4 linked regions of the Homo sapiens genome follow. The protein of the gene in region 1 purifies or fractionates together with the protein of each later gene. This does not show direct contact. Each region holds a gene or a part of one and is shown on either strand. Other genes may lie near its edges.

Region 1 (5,153 bases):
TCTAAAATGACCAACAAAGTCACTCTGAGCTGCTTCTAGTCCGCTCCTATCCCCATGGCCTAGTCTTACAGCCAGCAGGAGCTTGGACTGAGAAAACCCGGCTGAAAAGATTCCACCTTAAAAAGGCTGCCAGACACCCCCTTAAATATGCCATTTCCCAACATTCCAGGCTCTACGTTGATCCTCATTTCCTGTCTTTCTTCTCCTCCCCCAACCCCTACACACACACACACACACACACACACACACACACACACACACACACACCCTCGCACTCTCCATCGCGCCCTTTCCAGCTTGCTTCCCGCTGGAGTCATTTCATTCTCCATTGCTGGAAAGCAGATGTGAGCAGAGCTGGACCCAGACACACACAGGCACTCCTGATTCCCTTGCGTTTCTCCTCCTGGAATCTTAATTTTACCCATGTAGTGCTGAAGGAACACAAATACAGCACTCGGGGCCCTAAGCAGGCCTGACCGTCACCTCCATGAGCCCCCTCTCCCCATAGCTCTACAGTGTCCATGTAGAAAAATCGTCAGTGAGGGCCAGTGGGCTCATCTTTGTCTTTTCTCTGAGATGCAAGAGCACCAGGCTCTGGGCCAGATGCTGCTAAGCGCTCACTGTGTGACCCCCTTGCTTTTCTGAGCCGTAGTTGTTGGCTCACATAAGATTAGGTATTTTTACTCGTTGCTTCCATCCACCCTTAAAATTCTGTGCTTCTGTTTGCACCCATTGCATCAGGGAGCCAAAGACAGGCCCCTGACTCCCACCCACGTGTTAACTCACCTCTGCCTCCCAATCCCTGGGGAGGCGAGCTTGGCTCAGCCTGCCTGCATGTTTCTGTGACAGAACGTAAGGAGCCACCTCCTACCTGAGCTTTCTCGCAAAGCTCAGACATGTTGATAGGAACTTCAGCTTTCATATTCCTTTTCTCCCACCTAATGAGCGCCCAAGAACAAGGTCAGATCAGGAAGACGGTGGGCGGGGCGGGGGGGGAGGTGTTCAGACATCTGGTGTGGAGGAGCCATTCCAAAGAGCCAGATGTGTCCAGGGAGCAGATGGGGACATTGCAACCCAGACTTGGGGGCACTGGCCAGCGACTACTGGACCAGGAAGTGAAGTCCCCATGGGTTTGGGTGAAAACTCAACACCACGAGGAAAAAAGGAAAAGCTTGTTTTCAGAAGTCATCGAATCACCAGAAATTAAGTCAGCCCTATCATTTGCCTTTTGCCTTTGTTTATGAGCTTTTGGTTTTGTTTCCTTTTGTTTTGTTTTGTTTTTGTTTTGCTTTGGTTTTAGTTTTATCTAGTCATGTGCTTTTGTCTTTTCACTTATGGTTTCTGCTTTTGGAGCCCCACTTAGATTTTCTCAACCCCCAACATTATGTCAATCTTCTATTTGTTAATTCTGCTATATGGTATAAAGCCAGTGTCTGTCTTACTTGTTTTTCCTAACTGGGTCATCAGTTTTCCCCAAATCACTTTTTACATTTTTGGAGGCAGGGTCTCACTCTGTCTCCCAGAGTGGAGTGCAGTGGTATGATCATAGCTCACTGCAGCTTCAAACTTCTGGGCTCAAGCAATCCTCCCACCTCAGCCTCCCAAGCACCTGGGACTACAGGTATGCACCATCACACCCAGCTAATTAAAAAAAAAAAAAATTTTTTTTTGGTAGAGATGAGATCTTGCTATGTAGCCCAGGCTGGCCTTAAACGATCCTCCTGCCTCAGCTTCCCAAAGTGCTGTAATGACAGGTGTAAGCCACCTCGCCCAGCCCCAAATCACTTATTGAATAATGCATCTTTGTTCCACTACAGTAAATTTAGCCTGGTTTGTGAACTTGGTCTGTGACAGTCTATAGAGGATCCACCTACTCTCCCTGCAGTGGCACCACAGCTGTCCCATTCAGTCATCTGGCATGGAGGAGCCATTCCAGCTAAGATGTTGGAGACAGCTTAGTTGATCTCAACATGTCTGTCCTTCTGGGTACATTTTTAGCAGCGACTCTATCCCTGCATCTTGCAAAAGAGACACAAACTGAGCTCCAGGGAAGGGACTTGTGCAAGGTACCACAGACTAGAACTCAGACTGCCTGACTCTCACCTTCTGGAGTCAATTCCCTCTCTAATAATACCTCCCCTTCCTACAGGCCATTTACCTCTACATACCACATCCACACCTTCTTCTTATCTCTCTAATTATCCTCAACTGACTGGGAAGTAGCAGGCCATTATGAAGTCCTCCTTTGGGCAACCCAAAAGTTGATAAATCTGATCCCAAGCTCCCACATTTGCCTGACTTTGCAGAACATGAGAGCCCACCCCAAGAGGGATCAGGCAAAGAAAAAGGAGCATGGTGGGGGGGCAGTGGGAATTGGTGTTCTGGGTGTCTTTTCCATCTACCCTCGGTGCCATTTCTCTCCAGAGTAGTGGGATTGCCAAGCCTTGCAGAACATGGTAGGGAAGGCTCCACTGGGCAAGGCCAGATGGATCCTAGGGCCTGGGAGTGGGCTGTGAGGTCAGAGTGCTCTAATGATAGCACATCCTGCTCCTCCCCACAGATACCTGGGCAAAGAGGGCTGGGCGCCAGCATCCTACCTGAAGAAGGCCAAGGATGACCTGCCAACCCGGAAGAAGAACCTGGCCGGCCCAGTGGAGATCATTGGGAACATCATGGAGATCAGCAACCTGCTGAACAAGAAGGCGTCTGGGGACAAGGAAACTCCACCAGCCGAAGGCGAGGGCCATGAGGCCCCCATTGCCAAGAAGGAGATCAGCCTGCCCATCCTCTGCAATGCCTCCAATGGCAGTGCCGTGGGCGTTCCTGACAGGACTGTCTCCAGGCTGGCCCAGGGCTCTCCAGCTGTGGCCAGGATTGCCCCTCAGCGGGCCCAGATCAGTAAGAGCCTCGCTGACCTCTAGGTCCTCACTGCAAAGCTCCTTAGAGAATGGGCATGGGTGCCGTGAAAGCCAGGGGGGTGCACAGGACCCCCATGGCGTTTTCCTCCTGGGCTACAGACTGGCCTTTGACCCTCACTCTGTCAACTTGTGTCATGCTCATCACAGGAGTGGAGAAGGCAGAGGAGTATGATGACTCAACTGCTCCCAGCTGCTCCACGGAAGCTAGATCACATGAGGATGTGGGTGGTAGCGTTCCCTCCTCTAGTGGAGAGCCAGCAATGGTCACTCTGCAGATACACGCGTTCCAAGAGCAAGAAATGTTTTCTTTTCCTTATGGTAAAGGCTTTATAAATCAAGATAGATGATGTGTAGCTGACTTTTAAAAAATCAAAAAAACACATTTCCCTGGGCTGTTGAATGTGGGTGCTATATGCAGGGCTGCCCTATGGAGTGACAGTCTGTAGAGAAACGTCTTTCTGGGCCTTAGCAGCTCCTTCCCTATGACTTTCCACTCGTTACTGGAAACCTAAGAGACTTGGGAGCTAAGGCTTTACCACTCTACACAGGCAGTTTCAACAGGGCGTTCTTCAAGAATCATCTTCATTTCTACAGGAGACTCCAGGCAGTCTGGCACCCTCCATCTCTGGCCCAATAATGCCTTTTGTTGAGGCTTAAAACTTCCATGTTATAGGAACCTAGCTTTTGTTTGTGTCCAGCCATTCTTAAAATCTGGAGGAAAGCTGTTTCTTTAGTTTAGCTCCACTGGGTTAAGTTAGCTCTCGTGCCTGAAATCTTTTAGGGAACCAGCTGGGAAACAGTTATTGGGCACCTCCTCTTGCCTGGCATTATGCTAGCTTCTATGGATTTAATAGTAAGCAAAAAACAGACATGGTCTCTGCTCCTAACTTTGAAAACCTGATAAATCTATACACCCGTTACCCTGAAAAATGCCCACATAGCTGCACATTTTGAAAAGTGCACATAATTTTAGAGTGTTCATAGATCCCCTGGAAGCACAGCCAAGGTAAAGGTCTATAGTTTCCCCTTGAAAAAGCCCAACCACAGTGCCCATAGTGACTTAGAGTGTCAAGTCCTTCATAAAGGCTGAGCTAAAGCATGAACTTGAAGGATCAGGAGTTAGTTTCACCTAGGGAAGGCAGGTATGGGTACTGTTGCCCATCGTCTGACTAGGATTTCTGAAGCCATGTCTCTTCCTCTAGGCTCCCCGAACCTACGGACAAGACCTCCACCACGCAGAGAATCCAGCCTGGTATGTGTACTGAATTTCTTCTCCCCTTTCCTTCCTTTTCTGTGAATGCGCTATAGCCACCCGATCAATTGGCTATCTTGCGGCAGAGCCTCTTGATCCAGGGGTTTTCCAGAGCCCTGCTGGGGCTTCTAGTTTTGTGGGGCTAGGGGCAGGGAGGGAAGCCTGCAGATCCCAGCCTTCCTGGAGGCCTGGCTGGACAGTTTATAATCGGAAACACACTGCACTCCAAAGCTAAATAAATCCATCCCAGCCACTGCATTGGCAGACATAAACATTTAGACTGCCCGGCAAAAGTGTCCAGCCAGGGCATTGCCAGAGGCTGGAAATGGGGCTCCTGTCCATGCTAGCCTGGAAGCCTTTCAGCTTTCCCTGGTCAGGAATGCCCAGTGGAGGTGGTGGATGGCAGAGTCTGGGAGGGCAGAGGGCAGATCAGTGAACGTCTTCCAGGGAGGAGTGTGAGTTGCAAGGAGTGGCTCACGCCCCAGCTTTAAGAGGTTAACACTGCCAGGGTCCCTGGTTCATGTGGGTGGGGTTTCCTGGTGTCCAGACCCTCGGGCAGGTAGATACGCATCAGGGGCCAGGGCTTGGGGTGCCTGCGATGCTGGTGGCAGGCTGAGAGCCTTGGAACAAAGAACTGTTAGTAAGCGCAGTGGGATGTAGTGGAAAGAGTGTGTCTTCAAGTGCCAGGCATGGATTCGGATTCCACTTCTGACACTTAGAGGCGGAGAGACTGTAGGTAAGCCAGTTGCCCTCTACAAGCTTCAGTGCCCTTATTTATCAGACGGGACAGTACTAGCCATCTCTTAGGGCTGTTGTAAGGATGAAATGAGATGATTTATGTGGGGGGCTAGCAAACAGGTTTCCATTTCCTATGTCAGCTCTTGCCTGCTTGGTAATACTACCTGGTGCACTGGGTTAAGGAGGATTCTGAAGTCACATCTGGGCTTAGCAACAAGAGTTACTGTGGTCAGTGACATCAGCCC
Region 2 (5,153 bases), on another chromosome or scaffold:
CATACATACTTCATCTAGATCCTCTATTAACATTTTTTTGGGCCACATTTGCTTTATCTCACTCTCTCTGTATATAAACACATTATTTTTGCCAACTTATTTGCAGACATCATGACATTTTACCCCTTCATACTTAACTGTGTCTTTCCCAAGAACAAGGATATTTTCCTTCAATAGATATGATACCACTACCACACTGCTATGGTTTGAATGTGTCCTTCCAAATTCATGTGTTGCAATTTAATTACCAATGTGATCATATTAAGAGGTGGGGGCCTTTAAGAGGTGATTAAGTCCTGAGGGTAGAGCTCTCACAGATGGGATTAGGGCTCTTTTTTTATTTTTTATTTTATTTATTTTTTGAGATGGAGTCTTGCTCTGTTGCCCAGGCTGGAGTGCAGTGGTGCGATCTTGGCTCACTGCAAGCTCCGCCTCCCGGGTTCATGCCATTCTCCTGCCTCAGCCTCCCGAGTAGCTGGGACTACAGGCACCCGCCACCACGCCCGGCTATTTTTTTGTATTTTTAGTAAAGACAGGGTTTCACCGTGTTAGCCAGGGTGGTCTCGATCTCCTGACCTTGTGATCTGCCCGCCTCGGCCTCCTAAACTGCTGGGATTACAGGCGTGAGCCACCGTGCTCAGCCTCTTTTTTTTTTTTTTTTTGAGATGAAGTCTCGCTCTGTCACCCAGGCTGGAGTGCAGTGGCAAGATCTTGGCTCACTGCAACCTCTGCTTTTCGGGTTCAAGCGATTCTCATGCCTCAGCCTCCCGAGTAGCTGGGATTATAGGCATGTGCCACTACACCCGGCTAATTTTTGTATTTTTTTTAGTAGAGACAGGGTTTCACCATGTTGGCCAGGATGGTCTCGAACTCCTGACTTCAGGTGATCCGCCTGCCTCAGCCTCCCAAAGTGCTGGGACTACAGGCATGAGCCACCGTGCCCAGCGGATTTGGGCTCTTATAAAGAGGTTGAGGGTGTGGGTTCACTCTCTTCTGCTCTTCTGTCATGTGAGGATGCAGCAAGAAAGCCCTCACTAGACACACAACCTGCCAGCACCTTGATCTTGGACTTCCCAGTCTCCAAAACTGTGAGAAATAAATTTCTCTTCTTTACAAATTCCTCAGTCTGTGGTATTCTGTTATAGTAGCACAAAACGACTAAGACACACACCCAGGAAATTTAATACTGATACAATTATCTAATGTATGGTCTGTAATCAAATTTTGAGACCACGTCCTAATTTATCTGTGTGCTCGCAGGGACCAGAATAGGCAAGAGTGGAAGAACAAAGATGAGAAGAGAAAAAGTGGCTGAGAGGTCAAGGGAACAAATGAATGAGTGAGCAAGAATACAAACAAATGAATATGGGTGCAGAATGACTGAATGAATAAACACAACTAGCATTATTATAATACGCATTGTTATATTTAGGTATTATAACTGAAATACATAATGCTAAAGCTATACCGTTATACTATATTATAAATCTGCATTATATCTAATTATTACATACATTACTCGGTTATATGTTATAATAGTATAATACAATATAATTATCATTATTAGAGATAACACTTTCTGAGCCTTCATTATGCAGTCATGCACTGTTCCAGGCATTTTATATGAATTTCCCCTCACAATGGTTCTAAGATACAAGGCCTCACAATGGTTCTAAGATACAATTATCTCTTTACAAGTGAAGAAATTGTGGCCTAGTGGCTGAGCCAGGATCTATAGCTAGGATACCTTGCTACCCATCCCACCATGAGGGAGTGTACTGTGAGGGGTAGCATCACCCTATGGGGTAAAGGGGTTCCAGAGCAGTGCTCCTGGGGGCACTGAGTACTCACTGTCCTCCGAGGGCCGAATATCTACACGCAATTGCAGGTAAGGTTTGGAGGCAGTGGCAAAGGCTGTGCTGAGGTCCCAGTCAGATAGAAGTGAGAGGTAAACTTCCTGTCCTAGCCGGTCCCGGCCCAGGTAGCTGATGCCAAAGTTCTTCTTCCTGGACAGGGGATACGAGGGAGCTCTCAGGGCCCCTGGTGCCCTGGAGGCCTCAGGGACAGTTTCCAAAACAAGGAGGGTAATATAGAAGGCGTTGAAAACAACTTCCTACTATGTGCAAGGTACTGTGCCAAGGATTATGGGCAGCCTGAGATCAGGTCATTTATACCCACTTTGTTACACAAACACATACAAGCAGGTACACACCTGCTTGTATCTGGAGGTCACATTGGAAACTGGTAAAATGTTGGCCGGGTGCAGTGGCTCACGCCTATAATCTCCGCACTTTGGGAGGCCGAGGTGGGTGGATCACCTGAGGTCAGGAGTTTGAGACTAGCCTGGTCAACATGGTGAAACCCCTTCTGTACTAAAAATACAAAAAAAATTAGCTGGGTGTGGTGGCAGGTGCCTGTAATCCCAGCTACTCAGGAGGCTGAGGCAGGAGAATCGCTTGAACCTGGGAGGTGGAGGTTGCAGTGAGCCAAGATTGTGGCATTGCACTCCAACCTGGGTGACAGAGCAAGACTCCATCTCAAAAAAAAAAAAAAAAGTTGGTCCCCTCTGGGGTAGATGTGGGACAGAAGTGGGAAGAAAGCAGCCTTCTTACTACATAAAAAAAAAGCAATCTGTGTTTGTTATTTTTCACAACAAAAATGTTTATGTAAGAAAGTCTAATAACAACTAAGAATTTTTCAGCTATACTTGTGCAACTATGTAAAGAAGTTTGTTGCGTGATGCTCATCATAACCATGGAAACATCCTAAATACCCAACAATTGTGTACTGTTTGAATTTCTTACCATGTGTATGTATTCCTCCAAAATCACAACAAAATGACTATCACATCTGCCCCCAAGAGACACCACTTTTCAGCTATCAGATTGGCAAATTTTGCAGTTTTACAGTAACCAATGTTTGCGAGGGTGTGAGGGAAACAGGCATTTATGTGCTGCTGATGAGATCATAAATTCGTTTTTTTTTTTTTTTGAGACGGAGTCTCACTCTGTCGCCCAGTCTGGAGTGCAATGGTGCGATCTCGGCTCGCTGCAAGCTCCGCCTCCCGGGCCCATGCCATTCTCCTGCCTCAGCCTCCCAAGTAGCTGGGACTACAGGCGCCCACCACCACGCCTGGAGAATTTTTTGTATTTTTAGTAGAGACGGAGTTTCACCGTGTTAGCCAGGATGGTCTTGATCTCCTGACCTCGTGATCCACCTGCCTCAGCCTCCCAAAGTGCTGGGATTACAGGCATGAGCCACAGCGCCCGGCTGAGATCATAAATTGATAAAACCTGTCTGGAGAGCATTTTGGAAACACCCATTAATAGTTCAAAAAGCAGGCCAGGTGCGGTGGCTCATGCCTGTAATCCCAGCACTTTGGGAGGCTGAGGCGGGTGGATCACGAGGTCAGGAGATCGAGACGATCCTGGCCAACACGGTGAAACCCCATCTCTACTAAAAATACAAAAATTAGCCGGGCATGGTGGCGCACGCCTGTAGTACCAGCTACTCAGGAGGCCGAGGCAGGAGAATTGCTTGAACTCAGGAGGTGGAGGTTGCAATGAGACGAGATCACACCACTGCACTCCAGCCTGGACGACAGAATGAGACTGTCTCAAAAAAAAAATTTTTTTTAAAGCAAATACCCTTTTACCTGGCAATACCACTGCTAGGAATTTATCCTATGACTAGATGTTTCCAAATACAGTAGTCCCTCTTTATCTACAGGGGATACATTCCAAGACCCCCCCGAGTGGATGCCTGAAACTGCAGATAGTACCAAGCCCTATATATACTATGTTTTTTTTCATATACATACATACCTATGATAAGGTTTAATTGATAAATTAGGCACAGTAAGAGATTAACAATAATAGAACAATTATGACAATACAGATGCTTCTTGACTTATGACAGGGTTATGTACCAATAAACTCATCGTAAGTTGGAAATACTGTAAGTTGACAATGCATTTGGCTGGGCGCAGTGGCTCACCTGTAATCCCAGCACTTTGAGAGGCTGAGGCGGGCGGATTGCTTGAGCTCAGGAGTTTGAGACTGCCCTGGGCAACATGGCGAAACCCTGTCTCTACTAAAGATACAAAAAATTGGCCGGGTGCGGAGGCTCACGTGCCTGTAATCCTAACACTTTGGGAGGCCGAGGTGGGCGGATCACTTGAGATCAGGAGTTTGAGACCAGCCTGACCAACCTCATGAAAATTAGCTGAGTGTGGTGGTGCACACCTGTAATCCCAGCTACTCTGGAGGCTGAGGCATGAGAATCACTTGAACCCGGGAGGCAAAGGCTGCAATGAGCCAACATCGGACCACTGCACTCCAACCTAAGTGACAGAGTGAGACTCTGTCTCCAAAAAAAAAAAAAAGAGAAGATCAAAAAACTATCTGGGACTGGGTGCGGGGGCTTACACCTGTAATCCTAGCACTTTGGGAGGCCGAGGTGGACAGGTAACTTGAGGTCAGGTGTTCGAGACTAGCCTGACCAACATGGTGAAACCTTGTCTCTAATAAAAATACAAAAATTAGCAGGCGTGGTGGTGCGTGCCTGTAATCCCAGCTACTTGGGAGGCTGAGGCAGGAGAATCACTTGAACCCGGGAAGCGGAGGTTGCAGTGAGCTGAGACTGCGCCACTGCACTGCAGCCCGGGGGACAAGAGCAAAACTCCGTCTCAAAAAAAAAAAAAAAAAAAATTATCCGGGCATAGTGGTGCATGCCTGTAGTCCCAGCTACTTGGGAGGCTGTGACAGGAGAATCACTTGAACCTGGGAGATGTCACTGCACTGCAGCCTGGGTGACAGTTAGACTCCATCTCAAAAAAAAAAAAAAAAAGAAATAAAAAGGAAAATGCATTTAACACATTTATCCTACCAAACATCACAGGTTAGCCTAGCCTACCTTAAACGTGCTCAGAACGCTCACATTAGCCTACAGTTGGGAAAATCATCTAACACAGAGTCTGTTTTACAACAGTGTTGAATATTTCATGTAATTTATTGAACACTGTACTGAAAGTGAAAAGCAGAATCGCTGGGCACTTGCAGTACAGTTTCTACCAAATGCGTATCGCTTTTGCACCATTGTAAAGTTGAAAAATCCTAAGTCCAGTTATTGTAAGTTGGGGACTGTCTGTAAAC
Region 3 (4,073 bases), on another chromosome or scaffold:
CTAAGGTTAGAATTGGGGTTCCGAACTGAAATACTTCCAAGGCCCAGCAGATAAGTGAGTAAAGTGGGTCCCTTAGCCTTGGTGTCAGGGAGACAATCCAGGATGGTGGGCCATAGAGCAAACCATGGAGTGCATACCCTGAGCAAGGGTGTAGCCACCCGACAGGTGGAGTCACTCAGCTCCACCCAAGTGTTGTCATTCAAGACTGTGGGCTCAGTGTTGTCGAAACGGCACATTTTAAAAAAGAGCAGCTTGAAATGCAGATTTTAGATTTCCTCATTTTTAAATGCTGGCAATTGTTCAAAAACAAGATGGACAAACAGAAAAATAAACCAAAACACTGTGAAGGACAAATAGCACATTGTGTGAAAACACAATGGAGCCCACAAGATGCAACCCTGGTGCCGAGATCTGCGGAAAGTGAAGAGAATTGAGAAGGAAGTTGCTGGGAGGACTAGAAAATCTCTATTAATCAGAATCCAGAGCACTCCACTGAGAGCACAATCCAGCTGCTGGAAATAGGATTTAAGTGGAAATTCCTCCCTCTCAGTGAATAACAAATATGATGCGTATTTTCCTGATTATGGTCTTTACGTCTTACATTTTCCAACTCTCTTGATATCCCCATTTTGCAGAGTTTCGGTAGAGAATCATTCTCTTGAATAGTAATCTAATCTAGTTGTGATTTGGGTTTGCTTTGGTATTGACATTTCCTAGAGAGCTCCAACAGATACAGATAAAAGCTGAGCTGCTGCGGTTAAATCTGGGGATGTGGTGATGGGGGCCCTGTATCCCTCGAGACTGTCCCTGAGACCTGTAGCTCTAGAATCTAGTCCTCATGACCTCAGACGTTCCTCCAAAAGTAAACTGTGTGTGAACTTGTGCTCCCTTGAGAAGCTGCCTTTAGGAAGGGTTTCAATTCTTTTAATATTTTATCAAGTTTAGTCCTCTTCTACATTTTTTTTTTAAGTTTTGCAAATTTTCATGGAGTTTTTTAAAGCTTTCATTGTTATTTCTCTGTTAACAACTACCACTATGAAAACTTGATTTTCTATTGAGTTTGGGTTTTTTTTTTTTTTTTTCAGACGGAGTTTCACTCTTGTTGCCCAGGCTGGAGTGCAATGGCGTGATGTCAACTCACCACAACCTCTGCCTCCTGGGTTCGAGCGTTTCTCCTGACTCAGCCTCCCAAGTAGCTGGGATTACAGGCATGCGCCATCACACCTGACTAATTTTGTGTTTTTAGTAGAGACAGGGTTTCTCCATGTTGGCCAAGCAGGTCTCGAACTACCAACCTCAGGGGATCCGCCCGCCTCGGCCTCCCAAAGTGCTGGGATTACAGGCATGAGCCATCGCACCTGGCCAGTTTTTTTTTTTTTTTTTTTTTCTAAGTGCAATGGGAAGCCACTCAAAGGGCTTTAAGCAGGGAAGTGACATTATCTGATTTTCGTTTTATAAAGATCCCTGCGGCTGCCGTCAGTGATTGTAGGAGGGCAGGAGTGGATGCAAGGACAGCAGACATTAGTGCAGGAGTTCAGGTGAAAGATGATAATAGCTTGGGCAGAGTGGTAGCAGTGGACATGGAGGGAGGTAGACAGATTTAAGATGTCTCGGAGACAGCTGATGGAATTTGCTGATAACTGGAATGGGAGTGACAATGACAAATAAAGGAACCTAGAATAAGCCCCAGAATTTTGCTTAAGCAACTGAGAGTTCAGCCATGGCAGATCTGTTAAGCACAAAAGTTAAACACAAATACAAATTCATACTGCATTGGACTCTTTTAAGCAGTGTCTTATAGAAAAAACATTTTATCTAGGGAAAAATGCAACAACAAAAACCACTGAAAACAAAAGCCTATGAATAAAAGCAGACCCGTTTTAGACTGGATGCACAAAACAAAAACACACAGGATTCTTGTGGTGGCGATGGGAGTAAGTGAAGACGTAACAGGTTGCAAGTTATTTTAAGGACTAAGACCCAATGTTCAGAAACCAAATCTTGTTCTTCCAGTGTGGATGCTTAGTCAAAGACTGTAAATTGTCTTCAAGCTGAGAGAGACCATGAAGAGAGAGGAGTGGCCACCTAACTAACCTTCCCAGTTTTTGGGAGCCAAACCTAGACCAGAATGTAGGTCTAAGTGACTCCCAATCCAGAGCTGTCTCCATTAGGCCAGGCTCTCACCCCAGCTCCAAACCAACTTCTAAAAACTTGTCCAAGAGTCCTCCTCTTCTTTAGAATTGGTAATCTTGGCAATTAAATTCAGCGTAGAAACACTCTCCTGAACATAATCAGCATGCTGGTTCTTCCTTTTCTGTTGCCTTGCTCTTCCTAACAGCTCCTCCTTTCGTCTTTGCAGGCTGCTTCTCTGTCACAGGAACTCAGGGCTCAGTGCTGTACTTCATCTCCAAAGTGTCCCTAAAGCGCCCATCTGATCCCATGGCTAACTACTCCCCAAATTTTCTCCTGGACTGACCTTACTGAATTTAGATTTGTACATCCAATACCTGCTTAACATATCCACTTTGATGCTCAGTGGGCACCTCACACTTGATCTGTCAAACACTGAATTTCTGTCTCTGTTATGCACATACCCAAACTTTCCCCACCATGTATTTCCCCATCTCAATAAACTGCAATAGCTCAAGCCAAAAGCCTAAGATTCAGACCTGAATTCTTTCCTTTCCTCTCTCTCAAATGCAATTCAACAATTTTCTTACCTTTTATTTTTTGTTTTGGAATGAAGGCACATATAACTGAGCTAGTAATAATGCTTGATTCATAATACACCACCGATGTTCCATGCATAACTCTCTTATTCATTTGTCCATGCATTTATTTTGTTTTTGAATTTTTTTAAAGGGGGGCAAGGTCTACGTTGCCCAGGTTGGAATATAGTAGCTATTCACAGGTGAAATCATAGCACACTATAGCCTTGAACTGGCCTCAAGGATCTTCCTATCTCAGACTCCCAAGTAGCTGGGACTATAAGCACGCACCACTACACCCAGCTCATGTACTTACTTTTAATGACAAATGAACCACCCCAAAACCCACCACCTAACCCAGGGACTAAAACATTACCAGTGACTTACTCATAGATTTGCTCCTCCTCTACCTCTCCAGAGGTAACCACTATCTTGAACTTTATTACTTTTTAAAAGTTTTGTCACATATGTCAATGCCTAAACAGCTGTTCAGTTTTAGTTGTTCTTGACTTTTATAAGAAAAGTATCATGTCACATATAGTTTTCTCAGAATTGCTTTTTCATTCTGAGTTATTGTGCTGCAAGTAGCTGGTATTCATTCATTTTGCTGCCATGTAATAATCACCCATTCTGTGAACACATTACACCTTCCTAAAAATAGACATTTTAATTTATTCCAGAACATTCTTATATGTGTGATCTGGGGGACCTGTGCAAGCATTTCTCAAGTATATACTGAAAAGTGAAATTGCTGACCCATGGGTATACTTTTTTTTTTTTTTTAAGGTATGATCTTACTCTGTCACCCAAGGTAAGAGTGCAGTGGCACAATCATGATTCACTGCAGCCTCAACCTCCTGGGCTTAAGCAATCCTTCCACCTCAGCTTCCCAAGTAGCTGGGACCACAGGCATGCACCACCATGCCCAGCTAATTCAAAAAAATCTTTTTGTGCAGATGTGGTCTCCCTATGTTGCTCAAGCTGGTCTTGAACTCTTGGGCTCAAGTGATCCTCCTACCTTGGCCTCCCAAAGCCAAGAGGCATGAGCCACTGGGCCTGGCCCAACTTTTCTAGTGAATGGTTTTTCACAGTGGATATACCAATTGATACCCCCATCAGCAATATGTGAGTGATCCTAATGACTAAAACCCTCTCCAAAACTTGACTTTGTGTTTCTTCATTTTCACCAATCGAATGAATTTGAACATGTCATTGTCATCTTGATTTACGTTTTCCTGATTGAGAGATGAAAACCTCTTAATGTTTATTGGCCCACATGCACTTCTAATTGTGTGGAAGGCCTGGTTCAGTCTTTTGCCTGTTTTTCTGTGACACTGTCCTTTTTTGTTGGTTTGTAGAATTTCT
Region 4 (5,153 bases), on another chromosome or scaffold:
CCCATCTCTACTAAAAATACAAAAATTTGCTGGGCATGGTGATGCACACCTGTAGTTACAGCTACTTGCAGGGTTGAGGCAGGAGAATCACTTGGCTGCAGTGAGCCAAGATCGTGCCACTGCACCCCAGCCTGGGCAACAGAGACTATGTCTCAAAATAAATAAATAAATAAAATAATAATAATAACTGTGACGTTTAATGCAATTTTATGAGCCAATCTTTTTCTTTTCTTTTTTTTTCCCCTCTGTTTGAGACTGGGTCTCATTCTGTCACCCAGGCTGGAGTGCAGTAACATGATCTCAGCTCACTGCAACCTCTGCCTCCCAGGCTCAACTGATCCTCCTGCCTCAGCCTCACCAACAAATAGCTGGGGCTACAGGCACACACCACCATGGTGGGCTAATTTTTATATTTTTTTGTAGAGATGGGGTTTTGCCATGTTGTCCAGGCTGGTCTCAAATCCCTGGGCTCAAGCAACCTGCCTGCCTCAGCCTCCCAAAGTGCTAGGATTACAGGCGTCAGCCACTGTGCCCAGCTGAGCAAATCTTACAACATAAAAAGAAGCATATATTTACAGGAGTATGGTTGGGGAGAAAGGACAATGCAAACAAAAATTTGGGACTAATTTTCCTGAAAATTTACATAAAACCAACACAATGAAAAAGGTAAGAGGTGTGGGGCAGGAGATGGCCGGGCGCAGTGGCTCACGCCTGTAATCGCAGGACTTTGGGAGGCTGAGGCGGGTGGATCACCTGAGGTCAGGAGTTCCAGACCAGTCTGGCCAACATGGTGAAACCCCATCTCTACTAAAAATACAAAAAATTAGGCCGAGCGTGGTGGCTTACGCCTGTAATCCCAGCACTTTGGGAGGCCGAGGCGGGCGGATCACAAGATCAGGAGATGGAGACCATCATGGCTAACACGGTGAAACCCCGTCTCTACTAAAAATATGAAAAGTTAGCGGGGCATGGTGGCATGCGCCTGTAATCCCAGCTACTCAGGAGGCTGAGGCAGCAGAATGGCATGAACCCGAGAGGCGGAGCTTGCAGTGAACTGAGATCTTGCCACTGCACTCTAGCCTGGACGACAGAGCGAGACTCCGTCTCAAAAAAAATAAAAATAAAATACAAAAATTAGCTGGACATGGTGGCACCCGCCTGTAATCCCAGCTACTCAGGAGGCTGAGGTAGGAGAATCGCTTGCACCCAGTAGGAGAATTGCTTGCACCCAGGAGGTAGAGGTTGCAGTGAGCTGAGATCATGCCATTGCACTCCAGCCTGGGCAACAGAGTGAGACTCCACCTCAAAAAAATAAAGAAAGAAGTATGGGCAGGAGTAATTAAAGAGACTGTTTAGTTTTTCTACATGCAAAAAAAACCTAATTTTTCAATCTGTTTGTTAAATATTAAAAGGTAATAATTAGCAGAGCAGAAAAAAAGGTGATAAAATTTCTAACTCACTGGTTAAAAAAAAAAATACAAGAAAACTGGAAAGTTAAAAAGTAAGGTAGCAGCCAGGTGTGATGGCTCATGCCTGTAATCCCAGCACTTTGGAAAGCTGAGGTGGGTGGATCACCTGAGGTCGGGAGTTCGAGACCAGCCTGACCAACATGGGGAAACACGGTCTCTACTGAAAATACAAAAAATTAGCCGGGAATGGTGGGGCATGCCTGTAATCTCAGCTACTTGGGAGGCTGAGGCAGGAGAACCACTTGAACCTGGGAGGCAGAGGTTTTGATGAGCCAAGATCGCGCCATTGTACTCCAGCCTGGGCAATAAAAGGAAAACTCCATTTCAAAAAAAAAAAAAAAAGAGTAAGGTAGCAGTAATTAGAAAAAATGTATCAGTTGTCACAATACATATGAACAAGTTAAATTCCTCTATTAAAAGACAAATGTTCTCAAAGTCAGTGAGGACAATATTTAGCCATGTCATTTATAACAGAAATTCCTGTAACAAATTAATTTAAAAGCTAAAAATTAGTACACAAAGGTATGTATACACAAAGATACTTGTTGCAGTGTTGTTTAAAATGACAAAAAAGAAAACACTATAAATGTCTATCAAAAGAATAGTTAAGTAATATATTTTTTAACTATTAAATACTATGTACCGACCAAAAAGAATAAGACAGATTCTTATGTGCTAACACTGCAAGATGTCCAAGACAATATTCATTTAAAAAGAAAGCTGAAGAACAGTACATATGGCATACCTATATGGAAATACATATATATTTCTCTCTAAGTAGTTAAGACATAAATGTCACCTTATTTTACCATATAGGAAGTACATATTAGATTATTTATAAGGAATACAGAAAACACACGTCAAGTGGAAAAAAAAGAATGAAACAAACTATGTATACAGTAAAACCTTAGCTGTGCAAAAAAGACACACTAGAAAGAAACAAGCAGGGCTCAGTGGCTCATGCCTGTAATCCAGGCAATCTGGGATGCTGAGGTTGAAGGATCACTTGAGGCCAAGAGTTTGAGACCAGCCTGGGTGATACAGCAAGACCTCAACTCTAAGAAAAATAAAAAATAAAAAAAAATTAGCCAGGCTTGGTGGTGTGCACCTATAGTCCTAGCTACTCGGGAGGCTGAGGTAGGCGGATCACCTGAGCCCAAGAATTCGAGGTTGCAATGAGCTATAATCACACCACTGCTCTCCAGCCTGGGCAACAGAGTGAAACTCTTTAAAAAAAAAAAAAAAAAAAAAAAGGCTGGGCATGATGGCTCACAGCTGTAATCCCAGCACTTTGGGAGGCCAAGGCAGATGGATCACTTGACCTCACAAGTTCAAGACCAACCTGGGCAACACGGCAGGACCCTATCTCTACAAAAAAATACACAAATTAGCTGTGCATGGTGGTGCGCACCTGTAGTCCCAGCTACTCAAAAGGCTGAGGTGGGAAGATGGCTTGAGCCCAGGAGGCAGAGGTTGCAGTGAGCCAAGACTGCACCACTGCACTCTGGCCTGGGGGACAAGAGTGAAACTCCAGAAAGAAAGAAGAGAAAGGGAGAAGGGGGGAAAGAGGGAGAGAGGGAGAGAGGGAGGGGGGAGAGAGGGAGGGGGGAGAGAGGGAGGGAGGGAGGGAGAGAGGAAGAAAAGCAAAGCAAAGCAAAAAAAGAATGGTTTTGAAAAGAGCACTGAACAATTTACAACAGGATGTATCACAAAGTTTCATTTCTAAATTGGTTTACATTTCATTATCAATTTTCCCACAAGCAAAGTGTTACAGGTGGTCATGTTTCTGAACCACTATACTATAAAAGAAAAAGAGAATGATACTGAGGAAAAGCAATCAACTGGCATTCATCCCTACTATCTGCCACTCACCAGCTTTGTGACTGGACAAATTTCTTAATCTCTCTGAATCTGAGTTTCCTTTTATCTTGTTTTAGGATAATATCTATCTAATCTCTGATCCAATGAGTCAAAAGCTCTTTGAAAAGTGTGTCTGATTCAGAAAATACTCATCCAGAGACATGGTTCTGCTAGAAAATGGAGATACAAGAATAACACAGACCCTTTCCCTTAAACTAATAATCTAGTGCAAAAGACAATTACAACACAGCATACCCTGCTTTAACAGATGAAAGCACACATGTGGGGATATCACACTAGCTAGCAATTATAGAGGGTGGAGGAGAGACCCTGGTGGGTGGCTACCTGGGAACACATTCAAAAAGAAATAGCTAATCTAATCAGAGGGACAGGCTGGAAAGTATAGGATCGAAAATACACATTAAGATAGCATTACACTTACAAAAAGTACATATATTAGAAAGGTGTTACATGCTCCTTTATTTCAGTTGTACACACTTCTCTTCTCCCCAACTAATAATGCCAATCTAGTTTTAAAGACATGTATTACCAACAAACAATCAAGGCTTGGAATCTGTTGAAAGGAAAAGGAGAAAACAGAAACGCAGGGCATCTCAAGTAGACAAATAGTCACTTAGTACTCTGCTATTCAAAGTGTGTCCTTGAGCCTGCAGTATCTGCATCACCTATGAGCTTATTAGAAATACTCTCGCAGAATCCCAAACTTACTGAACCAGAATCTGCATTTTAAAAGGTCCCCAGGTGATCTGTGTGCTTTAAGTTTGAGAAGTACTGACACAGGGGTCTACTAGTTGATTTCTTGAAGTCCTCAGCTCAACCAAGCTGCAATCTACAGGGACTATTAAGAACTAGATAGACTTTCATAATTTACAACATTGTTTTAGTGGAGGAAATAAAATAAGAAAGACATTTTACAGAAGCCTTTAAAATAGGTAGGATCTATGAGGAAATAAAGTTTTCCTTGCAGATGTCATTAATAAAAAACATTTTGTGATATTTCATCCTTTCCAGGTGTGGCATCCTGCTCCCCAAACATTGTTCCCTCAAATCCTGTTTTTTCCTACGGCTTTGTGTCCTGACAAATACCCCTTTCTACTGTGGTTCTAGAAACAGATCAGAATAGGGGACTCTATTCTGATAAAGAAAAGCTGAGGATTATTAATTCATTTCATTTTTTTAATCCAGGGTCAGCCCTTTTAAACCTTCAACTGAATACAAAACATCTGAGAAGTTTTTCCACGTATGACTGGAGAGGCATTCTTTGCTAGCGGTCAAAGACAAGGACAAAGAACTACCCCCAAAACAGTTTGAATGAACTATGACCAGAAGCTGGTTTTGAATAAAGCTGATTTTCTATACCTCTAACTCTGTATTATCGACACGAAGAATGACAGAACCTTAACAGGAAATCTACATTCATTTTCTCCATTATCTCTGGTAACAATACAACACTGTAGTCAAGTGAACACAAAGCAAGCATAAATAAAAACACATTTTTCTCCAACTCCTATAAAATCAGTGCCTAGATGATAAAAAGTCAACTATACCTACTTGACTACAGACTTTACAAAATTAGTCCAAACTAATTAAATAACATCCCATATAGTCCCAAAATCTTCTTGCTCACTACAAATGAGCCAAATGAATCTCGAAACAAGACAGACGTTATATCACTCAAACAGATACTAAATGCTCCTCTCTGCAAAGTTTAACTATCCTAGACCATAAATTCAAACATATCATGTGTGTCCTGAAAGAAAAAATAAAGCTGATATGCCAAAATATTAGAGACCCGCATACAAC

Evidence for each region. The genes of interacting proteins can lie anywhere in the genome.
Region 2: the proteins of SH3PXD2A (region 1) and TBC1D25 purify together in Homo sapiens (affinity purification with mass spectrometry, with the first as the bait; one large-scale study listed by BioGRID). This does not show direct contact.
Region 3: the proteins of SH3PXD2A (region 1) and RAB3IP purify together in Homo sapiens (affinity purification with mass spectrometry, with the first as the bait; one large-scale study listed by BioGRID). This does not show direct contact.
Region 4: the proteins of SH3PXD2A (region 1) and MIB1 purify together in Homo sapiens (affinity purification with mass spectrometry; one large-scale study listed by BioGRID and IntAct). This does not show direct contact.

What each region holds. Positions count from the first base shown.
Region 1 is NC_000010.11:103,610,598-103,615,750, reverse strand, and holds part of SH3PXD2A (SH3 and PX domain-containing protein 2A), read left to right. Parts: intron 1-2,560; coding exon 2,561-2,898; intron 2,899-4,120; coding exon 4,121-4,170; intron 4,171-5,153. UniProt on the Homo sapiens protein: Adapter protein involved in invadopodia and podosome formation, extracellular matrix degradation and invasiveness of some cancer cells. Binds matrix metalloproteinases (ADAMs), NADPH oxidases (NOXs) and phosphoinositides.
Region 2 is NC_000023.11:48,541,722-48,546,874, reverse strand, and holds part of TBC1D25 (TBC1 domain family member 25), read right to left. Parts: intron 2,007-5,153; coding exon 1,852-2,006; intron 1-1,851. UniProt on the Homo sapiens protein: Acts as a GTPase-activating protein specific for RAB33B. Involved in the regulation of autophagosome maturation, the process in which autophagosomes fuse with endosomes and lysosomes.
Region 3 is NC_000012.12:69,817,868-69,821,940, reverse strand, and holds part of RAB3IP (rab-3A-interacting protein isoform alpha 1), read right to left. Parts: 3' UTR 1-4,073. UniProt on the Homo sapiens protein: Guanine nucleotide exchange factor (GEF) which may activate RAB8A and RAB8B. Promotes the exchange of GDP to GTP, converting inactive GDP-bound Rab proteins into their active GTP-bound form.
Region 4 is NC_000018.10:21,746,300-21,751,452, reverse strand, and holds part of MIB1 (E3 ubiquitin-protein ligase MIB1), read right to left. Parts: intron 1-5,153. UniProt on the Homo sapiens protein: E3 ubiquitin-protein ligase that mediates ubiquitination of Delta receptors, which act as ligands of Notch proteins.